Linked DNA regions of Homo sapiens. The protein of the gene in region 4 purifies or fractionates together with the protein of the main gene of each other region. This does not show direct contact. Each region holds a gene or a part of one and is shown on either strand. Other genes may lie near its edges.

Region 1 (3,500 bases), on a different chromosome or scaffold from region 4:
ATGCATTGCTAATGCATCCACAGTGATGTCACTATGAAGTTCTATTACAATTTGGACCTTCTGTTTATATACACTTTGCAGTCTGGGCTACCATCACGCCATCACTAAGTATTACACACTATTACAAGTCATTTTTAAGCTATTACAATGGAATAATTTAAACAGGATGATGAATTAAAAGATTTCTCAAGAACCATTTTGTACTTTGGAAGTTTCTAGTGCTTAAGGTCCCAAGAACATGATCTTCTACTCTATCATGCCCGTTCAGTAAAACCATGTTGCTTACTGGCATGTGTGGATTGCCCAGATGGTTCCACAAGTTAAGGAGATACAGACCACAAGGGAGCCAGAATGAATTCTTCCTTACCTGCTACATCCCGCTGGCCTGCTGGTCGCAATACAGGAAAGCCACCAGCAAACAGATCTCCCAGGGTGGGAGGTGTGCTCGCGCCTCGTGTGTTTGCAGAACCTCCTCCTTCTTTGTTGGTTCCTTTAGAACCTTTAGAGAGAAGACACAAATAGGCAAGGACTTGAGAGCAGAGCTGAGCAGCCAGGTCTCATTTCAGACCATGGTCTAACACTGGTCTACCACTGCCCTTGTCAGCCTTCCCATTCTCCCACCTCCAATGTCATCCTTTCACTCAGCATCCTCCCCAAGCACCCTCTGCCTTGATACCCTGTAGACTCACATGCCCTGCCCTCTCCAGTCCTACCAAAGAACTAACCATCTGTGCCCAGCTCCCCTGAAAAGTGACCAAAACAAAGGGACCTGAACACTGCCATTTTGTAGATGCTAACAGAGCAACTGGCAGCACCTTCGAATTAGAAAACCCAAATGTGGTAGGTGTAGAGCTGCTCTTATTTTCAACTTGGCTATGGAGGACTAGACAAAGAAAACCCACAGATTTAATTCAGTCAGTCATTTTAACTTCTTGTCCACAGAGCGCTGACCAGAACAGCAGGCAGGAGGTAAAGCCTGCCATGACTGTGCCCTGGCAGTTTCCTTCCTGTCTCTCCAGCCCTCAAGCCCCCAGCCCCTCGCACCTCCCTGCACCTTTTCATCTATGGAACGGAAAGATCATGAGCCCCTGAGGAAAGGTGTCACTAACTCCAGCCTTCCAGACATGTGTGATTACCAACTACAGAAAACGAGAAGATACTCAGCTTAGACAAGAATTCCTGGCAGAAAATATTTAACAACTTGAAGCTAATATGCACAGAGAAATTAGGGCACAGTGCCCACTGGTGGATGAAAGTGGCCAGATTATTCTGAGTATTAATATTGTACATTACTTACTCATGAGAATGATTAGGAAGTGAGTGTTTCAATGAAATTGATTTACCTGTTAATTAGGCTTAACCAATTCGATCATGGGTTTAACCAGAAACTAATTTTTAATGTACTCAATGTTGAAAATATTTCTCAATGTTGAAAATATTTCTTTAAAAATTTGTCTATCCTTGTGTGTTGACATTTATAATTACAGATAGGAGATATAATTCTATTTTTAGGACTATCTTTAAGAATTACCATCACGCACATCATAGCAAAACATAGGAAGACATAATAATACCTTACATTACAGGGTGAGTATCCCTTATCCAAAATGCTTGGGACCAAAGTATTTCAGATTTTTTTAAAATTTTGAAATATTTACATATACATAATGCGATATCTTGGGGAATGGGACCCAAGTCTAAACATGAAATGTATTTGTTTCATATGTACCTTTACACACAGCCTGAAGTTAATAAAATATTAATTTCATGCAATATTTTAAAATAATTTTGTGCATAAAACAAAGCTTGCGTTCATGGAGCCATCAGAAAGCAAAGGTGTCACCGTCTCAGCCTCCCATGTGGACAATCTGTGGTTTGTCCATTACCATCATTCCTGACACTGAATTTCTATGCTACCAATAAGCAATCATTTTCCTACACTTCTTCACACATAAGTACTTAGCAGTTAAAAATATGGCATACCATTAACACAGCAAAAAAATAATGTGTTCAAGGTAACTAAGCAACACAGTAGTATCACCAGAATACCCGGATCAGCTGTTAGACAACGGCAGCAACAAACAAAGGCAGGCTTTCAGTCTCCTGCGATGCTGTGTTTTGATTAAAGGTTACTGGACACTGGATCTCATTGTTTTAGGTGAGAAGAAACATCAGAAACCACTGAGAGACCAGGAAGTAGGTCCTCTAGAGTTGAGGCAGCATTCTGCTAGCTGGCTTTTAAAAATGTTTCCTCCAGAGTCATCTGCTTCATCAACAATGGTTTTTGTCTCAGAAGCCTCTCTCTGATTTTGTAAACTGACATCATTTCTTGTTCTGTTATGAATGTATGCTACTCTTGTCCTTCAGTAAACACATCATACATTTCCACCATGTCACCTGGAGGCACATTTTCTTCAGGGTTAACGTCATCTTCATCATTCACATGAGGCATCATGTCGACATTCAAAAAGTTTCAGATTTGGGATTTTTGGATTAGGGATGCTCGATCTGTACTAAAGAGTTCTGCATATATTATTTCAACTTTCAACAATCGACCAAGAAAAAAAAAAGGAGCCAGGTATTGTCTCCCCATTTCACAGATGACCAAACATCCTCAAAGAGGCTCCCCGATTTGTCTGGTTGCAGAACCAGAACTCAATGTGGGTCGTCTGACCTGAGCACAGGACTCAATTTACTCTGTCACATTCTAGAAGACAGCAAGCTTCAGTCATATCATCCTCTGAAACAGAATTCTTAATAAATCTTTCTCCTTGTGAAAAGTGAAACAAAAATTTTGCATTTTTTACAAAGTGAGCCCTTCACTTTCTATCACTGAGTTTAAGGACCATGTTGACACAAGGTGAGTGATCTTTAAATGTTACCCTACAAAGAATACACAAAACGTGGTGTGTCCATACAATTAAATATTCAATGATAAAAGGAGTGAAGTACTGATACATGCTCCAACATCTATGAAGCTTGAAAACATTATGCTAAGTGAAGGAAGCCAGCCACAAAAGGCCATATATTGCATGATTCCATTTCTTTGAAATAACAGAATAGGCAAATCCAGAGAGACAGAAAGTAGATTGGGTTGGCAAGGGCCAGGGACTAATGGGGAATGACTTACTAATGGGTATGAGATTTCCTTTAGGGGTGATGTAAATGTTCTGGAACTAGATAGAGGTGATTGTTGCAACAACATTGTGAATATAATAATTGGCACTGATTGAACACTTTAAAATGGTTAAAATGATGAATTTTATATTATGTGTATTTTATCAAAATTTTTAAATAGGTGTCCCATTGCAGAGTTGTTCTTTTTAGCATATGAAAAGGATGGAAGTTATGCTCTAAACCATTTGCAGATTTGGAGGGAAAGCTCTGGTTCTCTCGCCCACTTGGCCTGTCCAATGAGCAGGTCTGAGATGGCTCCATATGCATCCTGGGAAGCAGCTGTGGCCCCAGCCAGGGGTGTCTGGCTGTGCCTCACATGCCTG
Region 2 (3,500 bases), on a different chromosome or scaffold from region 4:
TATTGTTAACTATAGTCATCCTACAGTGGTATAAGAGAGTAGTAATACTTACATACTGTAAGTATTTACATAACTGTAATTTTGTATTCTTTAACAAATCTCTCCCTTTCGTCCCCTTTTCCCTGCCCTTCCCAGTTCCTAGTATCCTATGTTCTGCTTTTTACTTCTATGAGATCAACTTTTTTTTTTAGCTTCCACATGAGTAAGATCATGCGGTGTTTAACTTTCTGTTTTGGCTTATTTCACTTAACATAATGTCCTCCAGTTCCCAGTTACTTCTGAATAATACCTCTAGCAACATTTCACAAAATACTTTAGAAAAAACTTACAATCTTAGAAAATGATATTTGTCTTTGCAGCTTTTTTATGTGTCTTTGAAAAAATTATTATATTTTAGGATTGATTCATTTGTAAAATGAATAGTTCTGATTCTAAACTTTTCTGTTTTTAGCTCAACTCTGAAAGCAAAAATTCCACCTCCTTTGCCACCAAAGGTAGACAGATTTATTTTTCAATTTGATATATGTGTGTTATTGTTCTGCCAATTTAATACTTTGTTGAGAGTTTTTCTAGCTTTTCATTTGTGATCCACAAAGAAAAATCATGAAGTTGATATAAGTAAATGATTTTTTATTATGTTTGTCTCATTTTATAATGCCCAACTTATATTTAGTGTTCTTTTTTTTTTTTTTTTTTTTTTTGAGACAGTCTCACTCTGTCACCCAGGCTGGAGTACAGTGGCATGATCTCGGTTCACTGCAGCCTCCTCCTCTCGGGTTCAAGCAATTCTCCTGCCTCAGCCTCCCCAGTAGCTGGGATTACAGGCACCCACCACCAGGTCCAGCTAAAGTTTTGTATTTTTTAGTAGAGACTGGGTTTTGCCATGTTGGCCAGGCTTGGCTCAAACTCCTGACCTCAGGTGATCTGCCTGCCTTGGCCTCCCAAAGTTGTGGGATTACAGGCATGAGTCACTGTGCCTGGCCTTATTTAATGTTCATTCTAAGTAACAAGTCCTAGGAATTTACACTGAAAATGATTGTATTAATGGATTAGTGTTATTTGACTTGGGTTAGAAAACTCACATTTCTTACAAGATTGTTTTTCTCAAAATCTGCAACCTATTCCTGACTTCTAAGAATGAATAAAGGATAGTAATTTATCATCATAGATATTTAATTTTCAAAAGATAATTTTAATTAAAAATACAAAATAGTACAATTTTTAAATGCTTTTTAACAACAAAATTATTTTTCCAAACAAAATCATTCTAAAATAGTAATTTCAACTGATGGGTTGTTTTTTTTAAAGGTAAAATGAGCTAATATATACTTTATAAGTTCATATGCATAGCAAATTTTAATTATAATATGAGTTGCTTTAAAGTTTAAAATCAAAGTGTTACAAATGAGAGTTGGAGTCTTATCAGTCTTGTCATTCGGTTTATTACTATTTTTATTTATTTTCATTTTATACAATTGAGAAAATCCTGATTCATGCAAGTAAATAATGCTGTACTTGCTTGTTTAGTTTTATCATAGCAGAAGTAAAGAGATCTGAATTTCAAAGAAATAAGTGCTGAGCAATAATAAGAGACACGTTATAAATTCTACAAACCGTCAGCCAACTGTAGATTTTTCCATTGTTTGTACAGAAAGTGTCTCAGGCATCCCATATTGCTATGTTTGTATTCTCCAACATGATAACGTTTTTTGTTTTTTTGTTTTGTTTTGTTTTGAGATGGAGTCTCGCTCTTTCGCCCAGGCTGGACTGCAGTGGCGCTATCTTGGCTCACTGCAAGCTACGCCTCCCGGATTCATGCCATTCTCCTGCCTCAGCCTCCTGAGTAGCTGGGACTACAGGCACCCGCCACCACGCCCAGCTAATTTTTTGTATTTTTAGTAGAGACGGGGTTTCACCATGATAGCCAGGATGATCTCGATCTCCTGACCTCGTGATCCGCTCGCCTCAGCCTCCCAAAGTGCTGGGATTAGAGGCGTGAGCCACCGCACCCGGCCACATGATAACATTTTAATTGGTATCCTCTCATGCCCCTGGTCTGAAAGATTAAGCATTACCATAAAGACATTGAGTCATCTAAGAGACAGCTTAGATTAGCCTTGATACGGAGCTGAACTTTGACTAGTCTGAATATTTGAAATAAAAAGAGATTGATTTAAATTGAAGGAGATAAGAAAGACTAAAATATTTTTATTTGGCTAGTCTAAGTGGGGAGACTTGTGAGGAATTAATAAAAAAGTCGACTTAGAGGCCCTTTTATTTGCACAGCAGCAAAACCTGAGATGTACACATTTTAGTGTACATTTTTAGAATATATTTAAAACAATAAGATAGTCTGAATTGGATGGTTGAGTAACCTTTAAACTCATCTGGTAAACCTCTAATGTATAGTAGAAATAATTTGAAAGCTTTTAATGTATAATAGTACTTACTTCAGGAAAATAATTTGATGTTTCATTGTTGGTCTCTTTTTCTATATTATTTCAGCCTAAGTCTATCTTCATACCACAGGAAATGCATTCTACTGAGGATGAAAATCAAGGAACAATCAAGAGATGTCCCATGTCAGGGAGCCCAGCAAAGCCATCCCAAGTTCCACCTAGACCACCACCTCCCAGATTACCCCCACACAAACCTGTTGCCTTAGGTAATGGTGGAGGGTGACAGCAAATATGTTACCAGGTTTTCATACTATGGGGAGAAAAAAAACTTTCTTTTAAGAGATTATTTGAAATTCTTTTGGTGGAGGACAGAAGGAAAGCAGTGGCTATGGAGATGTTTTCTGCTTTTTGCCTACTAGCTTAAAGTGTTTTTATGACAGGATTCCCTATGACACAGTCTGAGATATTTTGTCCTCATTTCTCATTTCATATTTAGCCTTCTCTCTTCTAGAGACTGGTTCCCCATTCATTTAGCTACGGTGTGGAAACAATGCAAATTAAACTATGAACAAACATGGAAAATGTGTTTTGCGTCTAGGTTACTTCTGTTTTAGAAGAGAGTACCTTGTCCTAACTCCTTATTTCATTTAATCATTTCTAAAAAAATAATTGGTATTATTTGCTAGGTATTTGCCTCCAAATTAATACTAGAAGGTGCTATTTTAACACTGTAAAGACTCCTCTGTGTTTATCCAGAAGAAGCAATTTTAAAAAAGAGCAACTAGGCTGGGCATGGTGGCTCACACCTGTAATCCCAGCACTTTGGGAGGCCGAGGCAGGTGGATCACCTGAGGTCAAGAGTTTGAGACCAGCCTGACCAACATGGTGAAACTCCATCTCTACTAAAAAAAAAAATACAAAATTAGCTGGGCGTGGTAGCGCATGCCTGTAATCCCAGCTACTTGGGAGACTAAGGCAGGAGAATCGCTTGCTTGAACCTGGGAGGCGGAGTTTGCACTGAGCCAAGATCACGCCATTGCACTCTAGCCTGGGTGATAAGAGCAAAACTCCTTCTCAAAAAAAAAAAAGAGCAACTAAAGT
Region 3 (3,500 bases), on a different chromosome or scaffold from region 4:
GAACCCTGTCTTAATGCTGCAACACTCATTCTTAAATGCTAGGCCACACTATGGGAGGTGAAAGGGTCAACAGGTTGGGTCTGAGAGGCCCACGTTTGTACCCTTAACCGTGTTAACTAACGATCGGCCACTGTACCTGGCTTGGCAGACACTTTGTTCAGTTGTTTGAGTGTTTTCACTCCATCTGAAATGTCCAGCAGCTGACCAGGGTGATGTTTCTGGAAGGTGTCGTTTCACATCCATCACATTATGAAATGGGAAACGAATTTGCTTCTTGACATTGCCCAGCACTAAATCTTTCCAGAGTGTTCAACTTGCATCTTTGTAAATTTTCTTTTTCTTTGTATTAGACGTGTGTCTTTTTTCAGTTGTGTGGTAGGAAGACCTTGCTCTGTTGGTGTGAGATCGAGGTGGCGTGGGTGATAGAACGCAGTCCCCGATTTGGGGGTAGCACCTCCACCTTTCCAGTGCACGTGAGGCTCCCTTATCCTCCTGCTGCTCCTCTTCGCAGCCCTGAGGGACGAGGGTGGGGACAGGGACCTTGGGTCTGTTTGGGGCCTGTAGGGTAGGTGACTGTGTCATCTGAAAAAGCCCACAGGAGGCGCTGCTCCCTCCCCTCCTGGTCAACAGTTGGTGATCTAAAGGAGTGCTTCTCAACCACGGCCCACACAGTCACTGGGTAGTGGCTCAAACCGGCAGGGCCCTGGCACCACCTGGACCCACTGGAGCAGCATCTTGGGGCAGGGGGGCGGGGAGTGAACAAGCATGGGTAATTTTTTCTTTTTCATTTTCTTTCTTTCTTTTCTTTTTCTTTTCTTTTTTTCTTTTTTTTTTTTTTTTTTTTTTGAGACAGTGTCTTGCTCTGTCACCCAGGCTGGAGTGCAGTAGCATGACCTCAGCTCACTGCAACTTCCACCTCCCAGGTTCAAGTGATTCTCCTGCCTCAGCCTCCTGAGTAGCTGGTACTACAGGCGTGCGCCACCACGCCCAGCTAATTTTTGTATTTTTAGTAGAGACGAAGTTTCACCATGTTGGCCAGGCTGGTCTAGAATTCCTGACCTCAAGTGATCCACCCACCTCAGCCTCCCAAAGGGGTGGGATTACAGGTGTGAGCCACGGCGCCCGGCCAGCATGGCTAATTTTTCAAAGTTCCCTAGTGATTCTAACGTGTAGCTAAAGTTGAGAATCAGGCCATCTAAATGGTTTGAGTCCCATAGAGCAGCACTTCTCAAATTATCAGGTGCACATGTCCCCTGGGGATCCTGATGAAATGCAGAATCTCATTCAGGAGGCCTGGGGCACAGACAGCCTGCGTTTCTAGGTCCCCAGGGATCCCCCGTTGATTCTTACAGGTCCCAGGGACCGGGGCGCAATGGGCTTTGGACAAACCCATCCCCACCTCCAAGCTCGTGGCAGGACAGATAACCAGAAAATGTTAAGGTGTTCCGAAAGGCCAAAGTGTGGCACTCCCCAGCCCCCATGATTCTCCCTAAAGGCCTGCATCTGAGCTTGGCACTGCTCCTTAGGAGGTGTCCTCTCCTGACTCTGCTCTGATGGCCTCTTTCCCCAGTGGGATCTCAGGAATCCCTGCTATCCCTGTTCTGTATAACCCAAGGGACACACACAAGGGCCAAGGACCCTGACGTGACCTCAGCAGCCTTCACTGTGTACTGTTCAAGGAGCTTGAAGTAGGGACAGGACAGGGAAGTGACACCCTGGGAACCCCTGAGAATGAGGGAGGTGTTTGTGCAGTGACCTAATACAGAGAACACAGAGTTGAAGAGGAGAGGAAGATAGCCTGAAACACCCCAGAAAGTTCTGTCCCCTGTTTAGCATTAAGAAAATTATGTTACATGTTAATGAATTACAATAATAACCAAATCCTCATAAGGAATCTGGTGAGAAGCTACTAATTTATACCCATACTCAGAGTTTTAAGGTCCCACAGGTGGTACCAGCAGAACTGAGCCTGTGAGCCCCAGCCCTGGAGCTCACTAACAGAAGTTATTAATTCCAGGGACTAAAGCCTACAGTGCTCCCTCTGTAAAGCCCAATTTTAACGCATTGCATGTTGGATTTCATTTTCGCAGAATATATTAATAAATGTGTACACTAAGACTACAGCCAAGGAGCAGGTAATGCTCAAAGGGTGGCGTGTGGCCACGTCTGTGTGCTGGGATTGCAGTCACTGTGCTTTGCTCATCGGTGCTGTTTATGTTTCCTGCAATATCTACACATTGCTTTTTGTTTTGTTTTGCCTTCTTTTGCATCCAGACGAATAATATTGCAAGTTATTTTTAAATTATTGTTTATTTAAGTACTGATGATTTGTGTTTAGAATCTAAACGGTAAACCTCCTGTGCTTACATCCAAAGTTAGATCTGCCTCCACTGGCCTCTTTGCCTTGAAGTCTTTCTGGAATAAATGCGGAATACTTGACTTACTATGACTGCAGCTGATCCCCCCGCAGGACTCACCCTCTGCACATGTCCCCAGAGCCTAAGCTGGATTTGTCCCATCCCACCTTCTCCTAGACTTCCTGGGATGATAGGGAGCCCTGTTTCCCCTCTCCCACCCCCCAAATCCACCAGCCTCACTCAGGGAACACTGTTCAGGCCTAATTTCCAGCTCCGGCTGAGAAAAGTTGGCCGCCAGAAGGAAAACTAACGACACTCAAAATTATGTAGGGACAGCTTTCTCATGCTTTAAAAATCCTTGGAAGATAACGTGATTGAAAACGACGACGTTCTTATTATACTTCCACGTGTGCGTTAGAAAAAGACCCACACTTTAAAAAAGAGTGTCTACTCTTGGGTGTTGGGGTAATGGTATTTTTAATTTTTTATTTGTGTACTAGGCACGCCTTTTCACACCCCCTACCTGTTGTGACTTGCGTGACCTCAGCTCATGTTTGTTTACAATGGTTAATCCTTTCAAAGCCCCTGGATGTGGGGGGCTTTGCCCAGCTGGTGTGAGGCTGGGGTCTGTGTGTGTCTGCCCTGCCGTGCGGCCCGCTGTGTGTTTGTGCAACACAATTGTGTCCCAGGAAGGTGTGTGACAATCTCAACCTCATTAGCACCAGCAGCAGTCAGCTCGCCTGCGGTGCAAGAGGAATGGTTGGAAAGCTTTGATGGGCGTAGAGTTTGCCAGCTGACAGAGCAGCTGTCAATGAGATGCTGGGCATGGGCTGCAGGACGCGCATTACTTTGACAAACATGTCATTAGATGTTCATTCTTCTGAGTATGTCTGACACCAGCCAGAGTGGAAAAACCAGTCCCGCCAGCCAAGGAGAGCTGTCCTGGAAAGTAGAGAAGTCAGGAAACTTCCACATAATTCAGGTGGAGAATACTTGGGAAGACTTCTGGATTGCGGAGGGTGGGTGGAACTTGAGCAGACATCACCCAGGCAGTGGCTCGCCCCCCCAGCTCTCTGTGAGTGGCCGTCGCTTCGGTCCTGAAAGCCCTGCCACAGTCACACACCTCTCAGAGCACTGCCCACC
Region 4 (3,500 bases):
TTGGAAGGGTTGGACCCACCTCCTTGTTTCAAACACTCTTTTTAAAATTGAGATCACTGGGATGGATGTCATACTTTTTATTCACGTTTCTAGGGAATTAACAAAGGATATTGATTGTGCATGTTAATAGTATATAATAATATATCATAGTCAATAATATTATATGTTTTAGATTGATAATAACTGTCAGTGATCTTCAAAAATAAAACGATAGTTGGTGCAGGTCCGTAATTCTTTTTCTGTTAAATATGTCTTAGAGCCAGATGTGTTTTATAATTCTGCATTTTTTTTGAGTTTTAGAAAAGGTACTTAGATGATTTTGTGTTTATATGTGCTAATGCTGTGGGACGGTATCTTAATATCTTTGTATCCCCAGAGTACGGTGCTTGGCATCTAATAGTTCTCAATAAATGTTTATCCCTCCATCTTAGTGTTCCTACTTACAAGAGAACAAAATATGCTGTCCTCCAGGCTGCTGGGAGCAGTGAATATTTTTAATTTTTTTTCAGAAGCTACCCTTGTCACGATTTTATTAATAACGCAACATAGTGGACCCCTGAGAGCCCCTGCAGACCACTGTCCTCCCGTTCTCACCCACCCCTCATTCACAGGCCCTGCTCCTAGCACAGAAGCAGTTGCTGGCTTGCCTTACAAGTGTGTCAGGGGAGCTGAGGCTTTCCACGCTCAGACTAGAATGCCCTTGGACATTGTCCACTTGCTTTCACAGCAGCTGGTGGCGGAGACTTTCAGGTGGCTTGTCGCATCTTGAGTGGGAGGGGCCTGTTGGATCACAGCACATCCTCCCCAGGTCCCATATAAGCCACATAATTTGTGTACTTCTGTTTCCTTCAGTCGTCCTCAAAAGAAACTGTAGGTCAAGGGTTGGCTAAACTTTTTCTGTGAAGAGCCAGATAGCAAGTAATTTCGACTTTGTGGGCTGCATACAATCCTGTCAAATATTCCTTGTAAAAATTTTCTTTTAACAATCGAGTAGAAATTTAAAAAACAGTCTTAGGTTGTGGGCAGATTTGGGCAGAAGGCCATTATTGTTTGCTGGCTCCTTCATTAGATCCAAACACAACATCGACTTCAGTTCCCTTTTGTTTTCATATTTTCAGATTGAAAGGGAATTCAACAGAACATCATACTACACTTCTTATATGACATGCCTGTGGCTCGAAATTCTTATTTTTCTTCAGTGTTTCGGGTGACACAGGCATTTAAATCTGACTGTTGAGGAAAGATAGGAAAGGCTACCTTCCTTGGAAAGTTGTAGTTACTGCCAGGCTGACTGGGACAGTCACTCCCTTGCCTTGACCTTTTGTCCCCACTATGAAGAACTTTAGAAGAATTGATGGAGAAGCACCCAGCACAGGCTCAGCTGTGTTGTTATTTGCAGACTCTGCCCAAAGGGTGGGCAGTGCTCAGCCACTCTGAGCTCTGAAAAGGCAACTAGCAACTTAAAAACCCTTATTTATTCAGGTCTACCATATTGCTAACAAAGACCATGCTTGTGCCTATGTAGGTGTTTGGCCTTGCAGACGTAGTTGCTGTTGTATAGGGCTGCTCTGTGGCTGGATGTTCATGAGTATAGGGTCAGGGTCAGTACCAGGCCTTCTCCTCCACATCCTACCACCTCCTGTTTTTTTGTTTGTTTGTTTGTTTGTTTGTGGGGGTGGGGAGCAGGGGTTATGGAGGAAGAGGGAAGCATAAAATGTAGCACCATGTCAGCTAATGCAGCATTCAAGTTAACAAATTAGACTACAAAATGATTGTTGGCATTAGTGCTGCAGCATGAGTTGTATATGCTTGAGGGGTGGATCCAAATATGTGCTTTTCACACTAAATGCATATGGATGGGAGCCTACGGGATGTAGTAAAGAATTATATTGGAAAATTAGCCTTCTCCCCTCACCCCCTTAGCTCTCGCCCTTGCTATTTCTGTTGTATAAGCCCACCTTTTTTTTTTTTGTTTTTTGTTTGTTGTTGTTCTTGTTGTTTTTATGAGACGGAATCCTGCTCTGTTGCCCAGGCTGGAGTGCAGTGGTGCTATCTCAGCTCACTGCAACCTCCGCCTGCTGGGTTCAAGCGATTCTTGTGCCTCAGCCTGCCGAGTAGCTGGGACTACAGGCGCGTGCCTCCACTCCCGTCGAATTGTTGTATTTTTAGTAGAGATGGGGTTTCACTGTGTTGGCCAAGCTGATCTCGAGCTCTTGGCCTAAAGTGCTGGGATTACAGGTGTAAGCCACCGCACCCTGCCAAAGCCCATCTTTTGTTTGTTTGTTTGTTTGTTTGTTTGAGATGGAGTCTCGCTCTGTCGCCAGGCTAGAGTGCTGTGGCGCGATCTCGGCTCACTGCAACCCCCAACTCCCTGGTTCAAGGGATTCTCCTGCCTCCACCTCCTGAGTAGCTGGGATTACAGGCATGTGCCACCATGCCTGGCTAATTTTTGTATTTTTAGTAGAGATGGGGTTTCACTGTGTTGGTCAGGATGGTCTCAATCTCCTGACCTCCTGATCCGCCCGCCTCGGCCTCCCAAAGTGCTGGGATTACAGGTGTGAGCCACCACACCCGGCCCAAAGCCCATCTTTTTAAAGACTTTCAAAACATTTGCCTGTTAGAGCTTGCAGCAAGCCAAGATCACGCCACTGCACTCCAGCCTATTCAACAAAGCAAGACTCTGTCTCAAAAAATAAAAAATAAAAAAAATTCACCCGTAAGCATGTAGTCACATGTACATATCATCATTTTAAAAAGTCAAATTTATAAATGATATAAAATGCTATAGAAATGTAGAATGGTGGTATTTCAGTGTTTTAGTAGTGACAGCTATTCACAGGGTCTTGCTCTGTCATCCAGGTTGGGCTCAAGTTATCCTCCCACCTTAGTCTCCTAAGTTGCTGCGTCTACAGCTGTGCACCACTATGCCTGGCTAATTTTTTATTTTTCGTAGAGACAGGGTCTCACTGTGTTGCCCGGGCTGGTCTTGATCTACTGGGCTTAAGCAATCCTCCCACCTTAGCCTCCCAAAGTGCTGGAATTAACAGGCGTGAGCAACTGCACCTGGTGCCAGATTTTTTATTTCTTGATCTGGGTGCTTATAACAGAGTTGTGGTTTTTTTGGTTTTTGGTTTTAATTCCAGTTAGAGTACTTTTTAAACATTATAATTTGTACTTCACTACAATTTATTTTTTTTAATTGAAAATAAAATTGCGTTAATTTTAAGCTGGGGGCAAGAAAACACAGCAGCCATGTCTATGTGACACCAGACAGAAAGGTCTGGAAACCTAAGTGTTAGAACCGCCAACACGTGCTGCCTCTGGGGAGTTTGAGGGAAGCATCTTACTTTTTATGTTTGCTTCATGTACATCTAGGCTATTTCAGTTTATATTCATTATTTTATACCTACAAATGGGAAAAAACCTCCCTAGTGGAGAGATCTTGGGGGCCTAGGAGGAAAGAGAGCCTTGCTGATTGAGAATCTTCACCCTCACCATTG
Region 5 (3,500 bases), on a different chromosome or scaffold from region 4:
CTTGTCCAGCCAGCAGCAGGGAGAATACTTAGTCCCAGGCCCCTCGGCTCTTAGGTCAGTGTTTGTTCCACCACCCAGCTGATTCTTAGTTTCCTTATTTGTGAAACAGGGATCTTGTTTTTCCTCAGACATCCTTGTGAGGTAAACAAGGCAGATGTTGTTGCTCCCATGTGACAGGTGAGGAAACTAAGGTTCACAGAGGCAGAGCTATCTGCATAATGTCACAGTTAATGAACAGGGGAAGGAAGATGTTTAGAATCTCCATCAGAGAACCTTTAAACCTAAGATTTAGTGTGAAATCCCATTCATATTGGACTCCTTGGACTCAGGGTAGCCACAGGGTCTCCTCTTCCTTATTCTTGATTCTGTAACCCAGGAGTTGGCAAACTATGGCCATATTAGGCCTGTTGCCTGTTTTTGTAAATAAGATTTTATTGGAAGACAGCCATACCCATTCATTTACCTACTGGCCGAGGCTGCTTTTGGCTACAATGGCAAGGTTGAGTAGCTATCACATAGACCATATGGCCCATAAAGTCAAACATATTTATTCTCTGGCCCTTTAGAGGAAAAAGTTTGAAGGGCCCTGCTCTCATCTAAGACCCAGCTGGTTTCCCCTCATAGGTCTTCCCTGGGTCTTCCTTAGCAAAGCCACCCTCCTGGGCTCCAGACCAGACAGCTAAGAGGAAGAACTCTTGGGAAAATTGCTGGATTTGTGCTCTCTGCATAGCAAAGAGTGCATGGGGTGAGAATTATCTCAGAAGAGCCCAGATGAAAAATGTGAAAAGGCAGCCACAGACCTGTCGTTTGTCCTCAGGAGCCTTCAGAAAAAGTGCATTAATCAGTGCAATGGCGTAGGTCTGAATCTCCTGGTTGGAGCTGTGTCAATGGAGAAAGAAGAGAGAGGGAGATTAGAAGACTGAACAGCAAGATGATGCTTAGAAATGGTTTAAAACAATCACTCACAGATTATAAGCAAATAATGATCTGGAGCTCAGTCTCAAAAGCATTCAAAGTGGGCATGCTCTTGACCCAGCAATTTCACTAATAGGAATTTATCCTAAGACAGTAATCAGAGAGCTATGCAAGATTTACTGACAAGGCGTTTCATTAAAGTACTACTTAAAAAAGAATGGAAAGTAATCCAAATGGTCACATTAGCCAACATTTATACATATGAGAATCTTAAGTAGTTATTAAAAGTCATGTTTTAGGGTAAAGATTCTTAACCTGGGATTCAGGGATGAGCTTAGAGTATTTGTGAACCCCAGGAATGATACAGAAATTATTCTATGTAGTTTGCCAACTAAGTGGTATTTTTTCCAAACTGGTGAGAGTATATACTTGTTACCAGATTTTCAAAGGTGTCTAGGTTGCAAAAAAGACTTAGAACTACCCTTTTAGAAAAATCTTTGACATGGAGAAATGTTCAAGGTGTATTATTCAGTTAAAAAAAATCAAGGTACACATAGTATATATAATGAGATCCCGATTTTGTTAAAAATATGCATAAAAATACTGAAGGGACATTCAATTTAATGTTTAACAGTGGGTATGTCTGGAGGTGAGATAATGGGCAAATAATTTTGCGTTTTTCTGTATTTTTAAAGTCTTTGACTATAAACTTATTTTATTATGAACAAACAAAATAACTACAATCATTCTCTGGAATCTTACAATCCTGGTACTTGACATCTCCACCTGCCATGTCTTGGGTGCATTCTGTGGCTGTCTTTCCAGAGGGTCTGATGGGCTTCCTGGTTAGTCACATGGTACCCAGGGAGTCTAACAGAGGGCACTAAGTATCCCTCAGCCCAAAAAGGAAAGCATATAAGTTCTGGTGACAGCTGTGGGCTGAAAGTATTGGCTCCTATGAAATGCCATGTTCCCCTATCATCCCTAGGGAGGCAACTGGGGCCACTCTGAATTCAGAGACAAAAAAAAAAACCAGAGAAGTAGATGTGAGGTTACAGGAAAATCAGAATTCTCTATCTGGAGTTTATAATGTCCCTCTCACCTTAATCAACCTTGGTGGCTCGCTGGGTATGAAAGCTGAGGCTAGACCAGGCATGGTGACTCACACCTGTAGTCCCAGCTACTCAGGAGGCTGGGGTGGGAGGACTGCTTGAGCCCAACAGTTTGAGACCAGCCTGGACAACACAGCGAGACCCTGTCTCTACAAAAATAAAAAAAAAAAAAAAACTAGCCAGGTGTTGTGGAGTGTGCCTGTGATTCCAGCTACTCGGGAGGCTGAGATGGGGAGGATCGCTTGAGCCTGCAGTGAGTTATGATCATGCCACTGCGCTCCAGCTTGGACGGCAGAGTGAGACCCTGTCTCAAAAAAGAAAAGCAAAGAAAGCTGAGGCTGAAAATTCCTTAAAAGTGACAAGGAGAAATCAGAGTTGCAAAGAAATAATTGTGCTTTCTTTTTACTTGGATTAGTGGGGAAAAACAAGTTGGGAGCATAGCTGAGTGAAGACAGGGCCACTATAAACTCCCAAATCTGGGAGCTATGACTTCCCCTCGAACTGGTGGGGGATTCTGGCAACATTCTGACAATGTCTAAAAAACAGAAGTGAACAACAGTCAGAAGAGAATCAACAGGAGTGCCACCACTGTTTTGCAAAGTCCAGCTTCCTTACATGGTGTAGGTTGGTTGGAAGTGAGGTAAAAACAGCGGAGACGGGAGAAACATTGCTCCAATGGGTTCATTTGTCATATGGTCTCAGTATCTGGTAAAATGTTTTAGGATGTGATAAGAGTCTTAACAAACAAACAAAGGAAAAAAGCCCCTGAATTTACTGAATACCTAACCCAGGTTGGCCTCTATGCTGGACCTTTTTAAAATCTCCTTTGATCCTCACAGTGTGAGAGGTGAAGGTGATTAACCTATTCTAGAGATGAAGAAACTGAGGCCAGAAGAGACTAGGTTACTTGCTGATGGCAGAGACCTAGTATGCAGAAGAGCCTGGATTTGAACTGATATTCCAAACTCACACCTGTGTGATATTTCTTACAAATCACCCACAGTGCATCGTCGGTTCAGTGAGCATTCATTCAACAAGCACTAATTGAGCCTCTACTTAAATCAAAACAGGGGATACAACAATGATTGGTCTCTGTTTCAAGGGGGCTCTATGTTCAAAATGGGCAACAGATAATAAAAATCCAGTATTTTATATAATTATCATAGGTACAGAGACTACTGGGCCCATGTGAGAAAGCATCTAATTTTGCCTGGTACCACCCTGGTATGGGAAGACTGGGAAAATCTTCATTTTAACCTAAGGGGCAGAGAGAGTTACAGAGGATTTTGGGCAGGAGCATGACATGATCAAGTCTGAATGATGGGAGAAATTCTGGCAGGAGTGTGGAAGAGGTGATGAATGAAGAAGCCAACCAACAGCTTGGAATATAAGCAAAGGAGAGTAGGATTGGAAGACTTAAAATAAGAGGAGAAAAGAGGACAGACAAGTGAAGGGAGGGAGGTGTAGGGTTTT
Region 6 (4,125 bases), on a different chromosome or scaffold from region 4:
AGTCCAGGGGGCTTGGAAGGAAGAGGTGAGGACAGCAGAAAAGGAAACGCAAATTAAAAGAAGGGAACGAAGGCTGGGCGCGGTGGCTTACGCCTGTAAGTCCAGCACTTTGGGAGGCCGAGTCGGGAGGATCGCTTGAGGTCAGGAGTTCAAGACCAGCCTGGCCAACATGGTGAAACGCCGTCTCTACTAAAAATACAAAAAAATTAGCCAGGAGTGGTGGCAGGTGCCTGTCATCCCAGCTACTCCGCAGGCTGAGGTGGGAGGATCGCTTGAGCCCGGGAGGTGGGGGTTGCAGTGAGCCGAGATCGCGCCACTGCACTCCAGGCTGGGTGATAGAGTGAGACCCAGTCTCAAAAAAAGAGAAGGAAAAGAGAGAAGGGATGGTGGCGGTGGGGGAGGAAGGCGGTTCTTGTAATGATCCGAGAGGAGACCGCAGCACCGGTTACGCCCTCGAACCTCGGCCTCCTCATCTGCAGAATGGACGCAGTCCACACCGCGTGCTGTGGAAGGGTTGGAGCGCCGGTTTACATGACACAGGGCTATCGGCTAAGGGGGCGCTGGGAACGTGGAAGGTGCTCTATGGTGGGGCGCTGTAGGGTGCTCTTGGGCAGTAGGGTTGGAGTCAAATCTGGGTTGAAGTCCAACCTAGGTTGAAGTCCTGGCTGCCACCTGACCTCTGCCCCTCAGTTTGCTCATCAGTAAAATGGGGTTAAGGAGGCTGCCTCGCCCAGCTCCACGGAGCCGGAGGTGATGAAGGTCCTGGAAGAGCAGAATTCAGAACCCGAGCTTTGGGCGGCGGAGCAGGACAGGGCGCGGGTGGGCGCGGCCTCCGGGAGGCCAGCACGAGGGGGAGCGGCGGGGCCCGGACACACCCAGCCAGAAGGAGGAGGCCGACCCCGCGCCGACTCCGCAGATGCCGCTCGGGACTTCGTTGTCCCTCCAGGCGCCCGCCCTGGGGTCCTCCATCACCCGCCGTCACCTGGGCGCGGGGAAGCTGGCGGGAGGGGAGGCGGGGCTTGGCGGCAGCGGCGGGTGGGGGCCGGGGAGCGGGGGCAGGGGCGGGCGGACGGAGCGCGGGGCTGGGGACCCGGGGTCCCAGAAGGGGGCGCGGGGACGGGGTCCGAGGAGAGGGGGCCGGGGCGGGGCAGGGCGGACAGGGCTGGGGGCGGAGGTCCGGGGGTGGGTCCGGCGGCGAGTCCGGGTCGGGGCGGACAGAGCAGGGGGCGGGGGTCCGGGAGGAGGGGGCCGGGGTCCGGGAGGAGGGGGCGGGGCCCGGGGGCGGGGCCGGGGTCGGCGCCCTGCGGGGAGGCCGGCCACGTGACGCCCGCGGCCCGGCGGGGCTGCCAGGCGGCGAGCGCCGCGGCGGCCCCGGGAGGTGGCGGCGGGCGCGAGAGCCTGGGCCGCGCGGGACTGACCGTCGGGGCCCCGGGACGGCGGCCCCGGGGCGCCCATGCCATGGAGAAGCTGGCGGCCGGGCTGGCCGGCCTGCGCTGGAGCATGGGCGCCTTCCCGCTCGACCTCATCGTCAGCCGCTGCCGCCTGCCCACGCTCGCCTGCCTTGGGCCAGGTACCGGGGTCGCTGGAGATGGGGACCGGGGTCCGCGGGGAAATGGTGGGCTCTCCAGCCAGGGGCCAGAGGGATCGTGAGGAGGGTGCGGCACCCGCACCCTCCCAGCTCCCCGGCGTGGGCCCCGAGCGGTTCCTGGCGCGCCTCCCGGGAGACGCGGGGCCCACCCGCCAGGTCCGCCTCCTGGGCCCCGCGGACAAGCACAGGCACAGACACCGGGGACAGGGCCCGGGACAGAGTTTTCCCGCCCAGCTGGAGTCCGGAAAGGGGCCGAGCCCCTGCTCCCGCCCCGTCGGTTGCCCCCCTTTCCCCCGCTGCCCCTGGGCCCCCCGCCCCGGCCGCGCCCCCTTGGTCCCTTTGTCCCTGGCCTCTCACCTCTGTCTTCCCTCATCCCTGGGACCCGGACTCTGTCTTCCCCTTACCGCCACCCCTAGTCCTGCTCCGCCCCTCTGGGGACCCTTCTTGCACCTCCTTTCTCTTCCCTAGGAGCAGCCTCGGTCCTGGGGCGGGCAGGCCACCTTCGGGAGAGGCCGGCGGGAGCCGGGTCTGCTGCCCGGCGTGACCCCCAAACTCCCGGCCCTCCCCCGAATCTTGTCCCACTTCTTAATAGGACCTGGGGCCCCCAGCCGCTCGGCTGATGGAACCACGCATGGGGGCCCGAGAGGGTACGCCCGGAGGCTGCATGGAGCGAGGGGACCGTTTGGGGGGAGGGGGGTGCTGCTTGGTTGGGGGATGGGCGGTAGCCGGGGCTGGCAGCCAGGCCGGGGGTTTTGTGTGTGAGAAGAATAGGGGTTTGGCCCGCGTTGGCACACTCGCTTCCATGAATGCTAATGGGGCCCGCGGCCGCAGGCTCCTCGTCTCCCCGTGGGGCCCGGCAGCCCCTCCTCCGTGGCGGCCAGGAGTGGGCACAGTGGGCGTCAGCTGTCCCGGGAGCAGGCTCATGGGGGAGCATCGGCGCCCCGCCGTCGGGCAGGCCAGCGTCTAGTTCTCTGGCTCGCGGCCGAGTGGTCAGAGTGTGGTACTGTGTCTGCCTGTGAATGGAGGTCGCTGCCCTGGGGTCTTCTGGCCACTTCCCACACATCCTTTTTGGCATCTCCCCTTTCTGGGCAGCTTTTCTGAGCTCCTCGGTCTGCGTAGGGCCTCCTTTGGGCTCCCCGGCCACCTCATGCCAACTCTGGCTTGTCTCCTACTGTGCACCCCATTATAATGGTCAGTCAGTTTATTGTCTTTAGACCTGGCTGTGGGCTCCTTGAGACCAGGCATCCTTGCCCAATAAAGATTATGGATTGAATGAATGGGTGAGTGAATGAACAACTGGTGTGATGGCCCAGCTGTCTGTTGTGTGTGACAGTGTGTGGCTATGGCTGGGTCACCATCAGGGTGTGAATGTCTGGTCAGAATTGTATGGCTTGAAGGGTAGGTCCCTGTGTGCCTGTGCATTTGGGAGGGGCCCCTTGGCCGGAGACTGAGTTATGTTGTTTGGGTGACAAGCATCTGTCACTGTGGGCTATTGTGGTTCAGCTGTTGGTGGTCATGAGCCATGATTACTGCTGTGTGCCCATGTGGCTGTGAAGATGGGGCTAGGACCCAGGACAGCTCTCAGAGGAGGGAGCAGAGTTGGAGGAGAGCTTCTTGGGCCCCCGGAGGTGAGGAGGTACAGGGGAAAGCTTAGACAACACCCCCAACACACACATAGTGGGGGCCAGGCCCTTCCTGTGCGTCTTGAACCGCCCGCCACCCTGCCACACACACACACACACATACACACACACGCCTACCCCACATGTACACATTTTATGGAGCCCCCAGCCATCAGAGTAAACCATTTCCCATTTGATTGGCAGAAATTTTGTAAGTTGTGCCTGAAGGAGAAAGGAAGGAGGTACTCCCTACCCCCACCCTCCCCACCAGCTGCAGCCCGGACACAGCCCCTTCTGCCTCCTGGAAGCTGGGCTGCCCCTCCTGCTCCCCTGGAAACCGTTGCTGGGGTTGGCGCCTCCAGGCCCAGACCCCTCCCAACTCCCAACACCTCTGCCCCAGAGCAGCTTCCCCCAGGCCCCAGGGCTGGGCCTCCCACTCCTGCCTTCTAAACCTGCTCTCTCAACCCCTCCAACCCTCAGCCGTCACCCCTGTAACTGGGAGGATGAGGGGGCGTGGGGAGGGGGTGTCAAGGAGCTGCTTCTCTGAGATGGGGTTGGGGGTTTCTGGGGACTCCCCCCTCTCCTTCGAGGTCCCCTTGACAAGGCAGTGGGTGGCTTCTCTGAGATGGGGTTGGGGGTTTCTGGGGACTCCCCCCCTCTCCTTCGAGGTCCCCTGAACAAGGCAGTGGGTGGAAAGGAAGGGCTGCCCTTGGGAGAGGCAGTAATCAGCTGCTCTAAGCCCTGTCATTCTCCTGACCTGAGCGACCCGTGGCTCTGGGGGAGCTCTCACAGCTGGGACCTTATAAGGGACAGTCCCGTCCGGGCCCTCTCCACTGCCCCAGTAGGGCCCTTCTTGCAGGGCCTAGGCCCTGACTGGGAAGCACAGCTCCAGCATCTCCTGCTCAATAAAGTCTC
Region 7 (3,500 bases), on a different chromosome or scaffold from region 4:
ATAATAATGTCATCAAATGCCAGTCTTGCTACTATTAAAGGAAGAAAAGCTAAGCTACCTATGATCACACACACACACACACACACACACACACACACACAGAGAGAGAGAGAGAGAGTAATTAATATGGTATTAATGAACCCTCTAATTTGTTGGAAATGATTTTTAATTCATGAAATGCAAATCATTTAGTGTCAACTCCTTTACCCTCCTCCCATTCTAAACAATTCATTCCATTTTCAGGTTTGCCTTTAGGACATTTTCCCTGACATTTGTGTCTTTGACTTATTCTACTCCTTTAACTAAATGACTTATTCTTTAAAAGGAAAATAGAATTCACCTCCCTTAAGTATTAGTGCCTTGGAAGTCCTTATAAAATACTTGATCTGATCCATCCCACTCTCAATTAACCTTCACTGCATCCAGTTATATTTTTAATCTCTCCAATCTCTTTTTTTTTCCTTGCTGCTCTTCTCTAGGGCCCTCTCCAATATACAGTATCTCTTTGTGATAAAGTCACAGTCTAAATTCAATGCCTTGTTGTCAACTCAGAAACTGAGACACAGATCACCACCTTCCTGCTTTGACATAGATACTTCAGTACATGCAGGCTTGAGCTAAAATGATATGGGCTGCCAGATGACACTGGAAATGCATATATTGTCTACTTTCCACTTATATTCAGTTCAATTTCAGAACTGTAGTTTTTCAGGGATTTTTGTAAAAATAAATTGACATACTATAATTTTTTATCCTGATTAGTTTGCATTATATCTGACTACCTTCATTTTACATGTGCATTTGAAAGTTGTCTCATACTTTATCCTGTCAGTTCTCTTTTTATACATACATAAGCTTCTATGTATTCATATTTTCTTGTATATTCTTACCCAGTAAACTTAGAACTCAATAAATACATGTTCATTGGTTTTATGTGTCCATATTTCTCAAGAGTTCCAGGAGGAGTCATACTGAATCCCAGCTTGGCTGCTTGCTAGCTATACGATCCTGGGTGAATGACTTGTCTCTCCAACCCTGAATTTTCTCCCCTATTGACATGGGGATATGGAAACAGGTAAGGAATAGAAGGTATGAAAAGTATCTAGCAGAATCCATGTCTGCTACCCCATAATGGCTAAGCAAATGTTGGCCCCTTTTTTCCGTCTACTTTATAAAATGTATTTAGTATGACATAATCCATAAGAATTTTTAAATCAATGCAGAGAGTGTGAGAAACTGCAATGCAAACTTGGACTAGGATAAATTGCAAAACTTTGGCCATGCAGAAAATTAAATTGGATCATTCTATATAGCATATGAGCTTGGGACTCTCTTGACTTGGCTCTGGTAGCAGAGGAAAAAAATAATCTATTTCTTTCTAGATACTTGAAGTCCCTCTAAAATAAATGACAATAATAAATAAAACTTCATAATTTAACTTACTAGCCATAGCAAAAGGTACTACCTAAGAAGAATACCTAACACTCTAAATGTATACTCCATTGATAGAGAACCCAATAGCCTACCCTCTAATCCAGCTAAACATTAAGTTTCCATTCCTCCAAGGTTCTGGGTGACTGCCCAACTTCATTCTTAAAGAAGTTAAATCAAGTGCATTTTTGGATAACTGTTAATCATAAGTAAATTCCAAAACAGAGATATCCTATCCAGTCTAGTTATCTTAGTTATATTGCTCTCAGACATTACTAATAAAAAAGGAATTCATTTGATGGTAGTAATTAAGTACCACCAACTGTGAATTTGTGATAACCTAAAAGTATATTATATAATGTTAATTCAGCAAAAATATTTTTGTGATTTCAAGTTCTACCAATTCATTGTTGCATGAAGAAAAGTTCATGTTTTGACACTTTATTTATAGACCTTGGGAACTATGAAGTATGGTTCTCAATAATTATGACATTTTAATTGTAAGCACCATTTATCTAATAACTATAATACTTAGAAGCAATTTCTTGAAAAATATCAGCATAATCACTTTTTAAAAATATTTTATTTCGTCCCCATTAATCAAAAAACTTTTTCTATTTGTGCAGAATTGAGAGTCTATTTACCACTCAGACTAGAATAAAATAATGTGGACTCTTCTGCCTATATAATTAGCATTGAAAAACTAATATTTCTAACAAGCGTGTCATTTTAAAACATCTGCGTATTAGCAACTAGTACAGTTTTCACTTAACACCTCTATAAATGAGTTATATGCACTCTAAAAACATACTTAAATAAACAATCCAATTACATTTTAAAACTCTCTTCAAGAATGTCTAATATAGCAAAGAAAAATACTTATCTTTTAATAAATGTTGCTTCTGCCTAAGGGGTCACCTCAAATCTTCTGTGAAATGAGGCAAGGTAAACATATGTAAATAAATATTAATAAAATCATTAACATAGTAGCTTCTTGTTTATTATTATTATTTGAGACAGAGTCTTGCTCTATCAGCCATGCCGGAGTGCAGTGGCACAATCATGGCTCACTTACAGCTTTGACCTCCTGGACTCAAGTGATCCTCCTACCTCAGCCTCCCAAGTAGTTGGCACTACAGGCATGCTCCACCATACCTGGCTAATTATTTTTTGGTTTTTCTGTAGAGACAAGATCTCACTACGTTGCCCAGACTGGTCTCAAACTCCTGGGCTCAAGCAATCCTCCCGCCTTGGCCTCCCCAAATACTGGGGTTATAAGCATGAGTACTGTGCCTGGCCAGCTTCTTATTAATATAGGTAACATTTATATAGGGAGCAAGACAGAAGTTAAAAGTATTTATCAGAGGAAATGGTAAACCTCAACATGGAGGATGCAATATGGCACAGAGGTTCTAGAGCATGGGTTATGGTCATCAACACCTCTAGTTGAATCTTAGCTCCACTGTTTTTATATTAAATTAAATTATCCTTGAGTGAGTTACTCAAACTCTCTAAATCTTGATTTCCTCTTCTGTAAAATGGAAATCATAAGAGTACCTACCTCTTTGGGGTTGTATGAGGACTAAATGAGATTATTCATATAAAAGCACCCAGAATAGTACCTACACATAACAGGCACTCTATAAATGTTAACCATTATTATCATCACCACTGCACTATAAATATATGTATACGTATAATGAAAATAGTTGAATAAATTCAATTCTTCTGTATACAAATCAGACCAGTAGGCAGACCCAAGCCAGCTAGTAAACCCCTATGTTCAGATTATAGGTCTCAAATTCTATTCATTAGATCTTAAGCTGCCTCTCATTGCCAGCATATATCTCATCCTGCACCACCAAAAGAACAATCTGGTTACTCATGCTATATCACATTAATATGCAAGTTCATCACTTCAGCAAGAAAATCACAAACAAGTGGTTCATTCATGACTCATTTTATTCATAACAATCTCAAACCTGTCACCCAAAAATCAGCTTTTACAGCAACCGCTAAATGAAGTAAACATATTCACATCCGAATTCATTCATTGGTGTCCAAAAAAA

Evidence for each region.
Region 1: the proteins of GRB2 (region 4) and WIPF3 purify together in Homo sapiens (affinity purification with mass spectrometry; 4 studies listed by BioGRID and IntAct, with this or other methods). This does not show direct contact.
Region 2: the proteins of GRB2 (region 4) and MAP4K3 purify together in Homo sapiens (affinity purification with mass spectrometry; 4 studies listed by BioGRID and IntAct, with this or other methods). This does not show direct contact.
Region 3: the proteins of GRB2 (region 4) and LRRK1 purify together in Homo sapiens (affinity purification with mass spectrometry; 4 studies listed by BioGRID and IntAct, with this or other methods). This does not show direct contact.
Region 5: the proteins of GRB2 (region 4) and ELMO2 purify together in Homo sapiens (co-immunoprecipitation; 5 studies listed by BioGRID and IntAct, with this or other methods). This does not show direct contact.
Region 6: the proteins of GRB2 (region 4) and GAREM2 purify together in Homo sapiens (co-immunoprecipitation; 5 studies listed by BioGRID and IntAct, with this or other methods). This does not show direct contact.
Region 7: the proteins of GRB2 (region 4) and DNM3 purify together in Homo sapiens (affinity purification with mass spectrometry; 6 studies listed by BioGRID and IntAct, with this or other methods). This does not show direct contact.

Annotation. Positions count from the first base shown.
Region 1 is NC_000007.14:29,876,008-29,879,507, reverse strand, and holds part of WIPF3 (WAS/WASL-interacting protein family member 3), read right to left. Parts: intron 500-3,500; coding exon 368-499; intron 1-367. UniProt on the Homo sapiens protein: May be a regulator of cytoskeletal organization. May have a role in spermatogenesis.
Region 2 is NC_000002.12:39,287,286-39,290,785, reverse strand, and holds part of MAP4K3 (mitogen-activated protein kinase kinase kinase kinase 3), read left to right. Parts: intron 1-451; coding exon 452-494; intron 495-2,505; coding exon 2,506-2,665; intron 2,666-3,500. UniProt on the Homo sapiens protein: Serine/threonine kinase that plays a role in the response to environmental stress. Appears to act upstream of the JUN N-terminal pathway.
Region 3 is NC_000015.10:100,925,857-100,929,356, forward strand, and holds part of LRRK1 (leucine-rich repeat serine/threonine-protein kinase 1), read left to right. Parts: intron 1-3,500.
Region 4 is NC_000017.11:75,329,179-75,332,678, reverse strand, and holds part of GRB2 (growth factor receptor-bound protein 2), read left to right. Parts: intron 1-3,500. UniProt on the Homo sapiens protein: Non-enzymatic adapter protein that plays a pivotal role in precisely regulated signaling cascades from cell surface receptors to cellular responses, including signaling transduction and gene expression.
Region 5 is NC_000020.11:46,382,616-46,386,115, forward strand, and holds part of ELMO2 (engulfment and cell motility protein 2), read right to left. Parts: intron 880-3,500; coding exon 801-879; intron 1-800. UniProt on the Homo sapiens protein: Involved in cytoskeletal rearrangements required for phagocytosis of apoptotic cells and cell motility. Acts in association with DOCK1 and CRK. Was initially proposed to be required in complex with DOCK1 to activate Rac Rho small GTPases.
Region 6 is NC_000002.12:26,171,763-26,175,887, forward strand, and holds the start of GAREM2 (GRB2-associated and regulator of MAPK protein 2), read left to right. Parts: upstream 1-1,325; 5' UTR 1,326-1,458; coding exon 1,459-1,570; intron 1,571-2,099; exon of another isoform or gene 2,100-2,235; intron 2,236-2,532; exon of another isoform or gene 2,533-3,110; coding exon of another isoform or gene 3,111-3,216; intron 3,217-4,125. UniProt on the Homo sapiens protein: Probable adapter protein that may provide a link between cell surface epidermal growth factor receptor and the MAPK/ERK signaling pathway.
Region 7 is NC_000001.11:171,844,498-171,847,997, reverse strand, and holds part of DNM3 (dynamin-3), read right to left. Parts: intron 1-3,500. UniProt on the Homo sapiens protein: Microtubule-associated force-producing protein involved in producing microtubule bundles and able to bind and hydrolyze GTP. Most probably involved in vesicular trafficking processes, in particular endocytosis.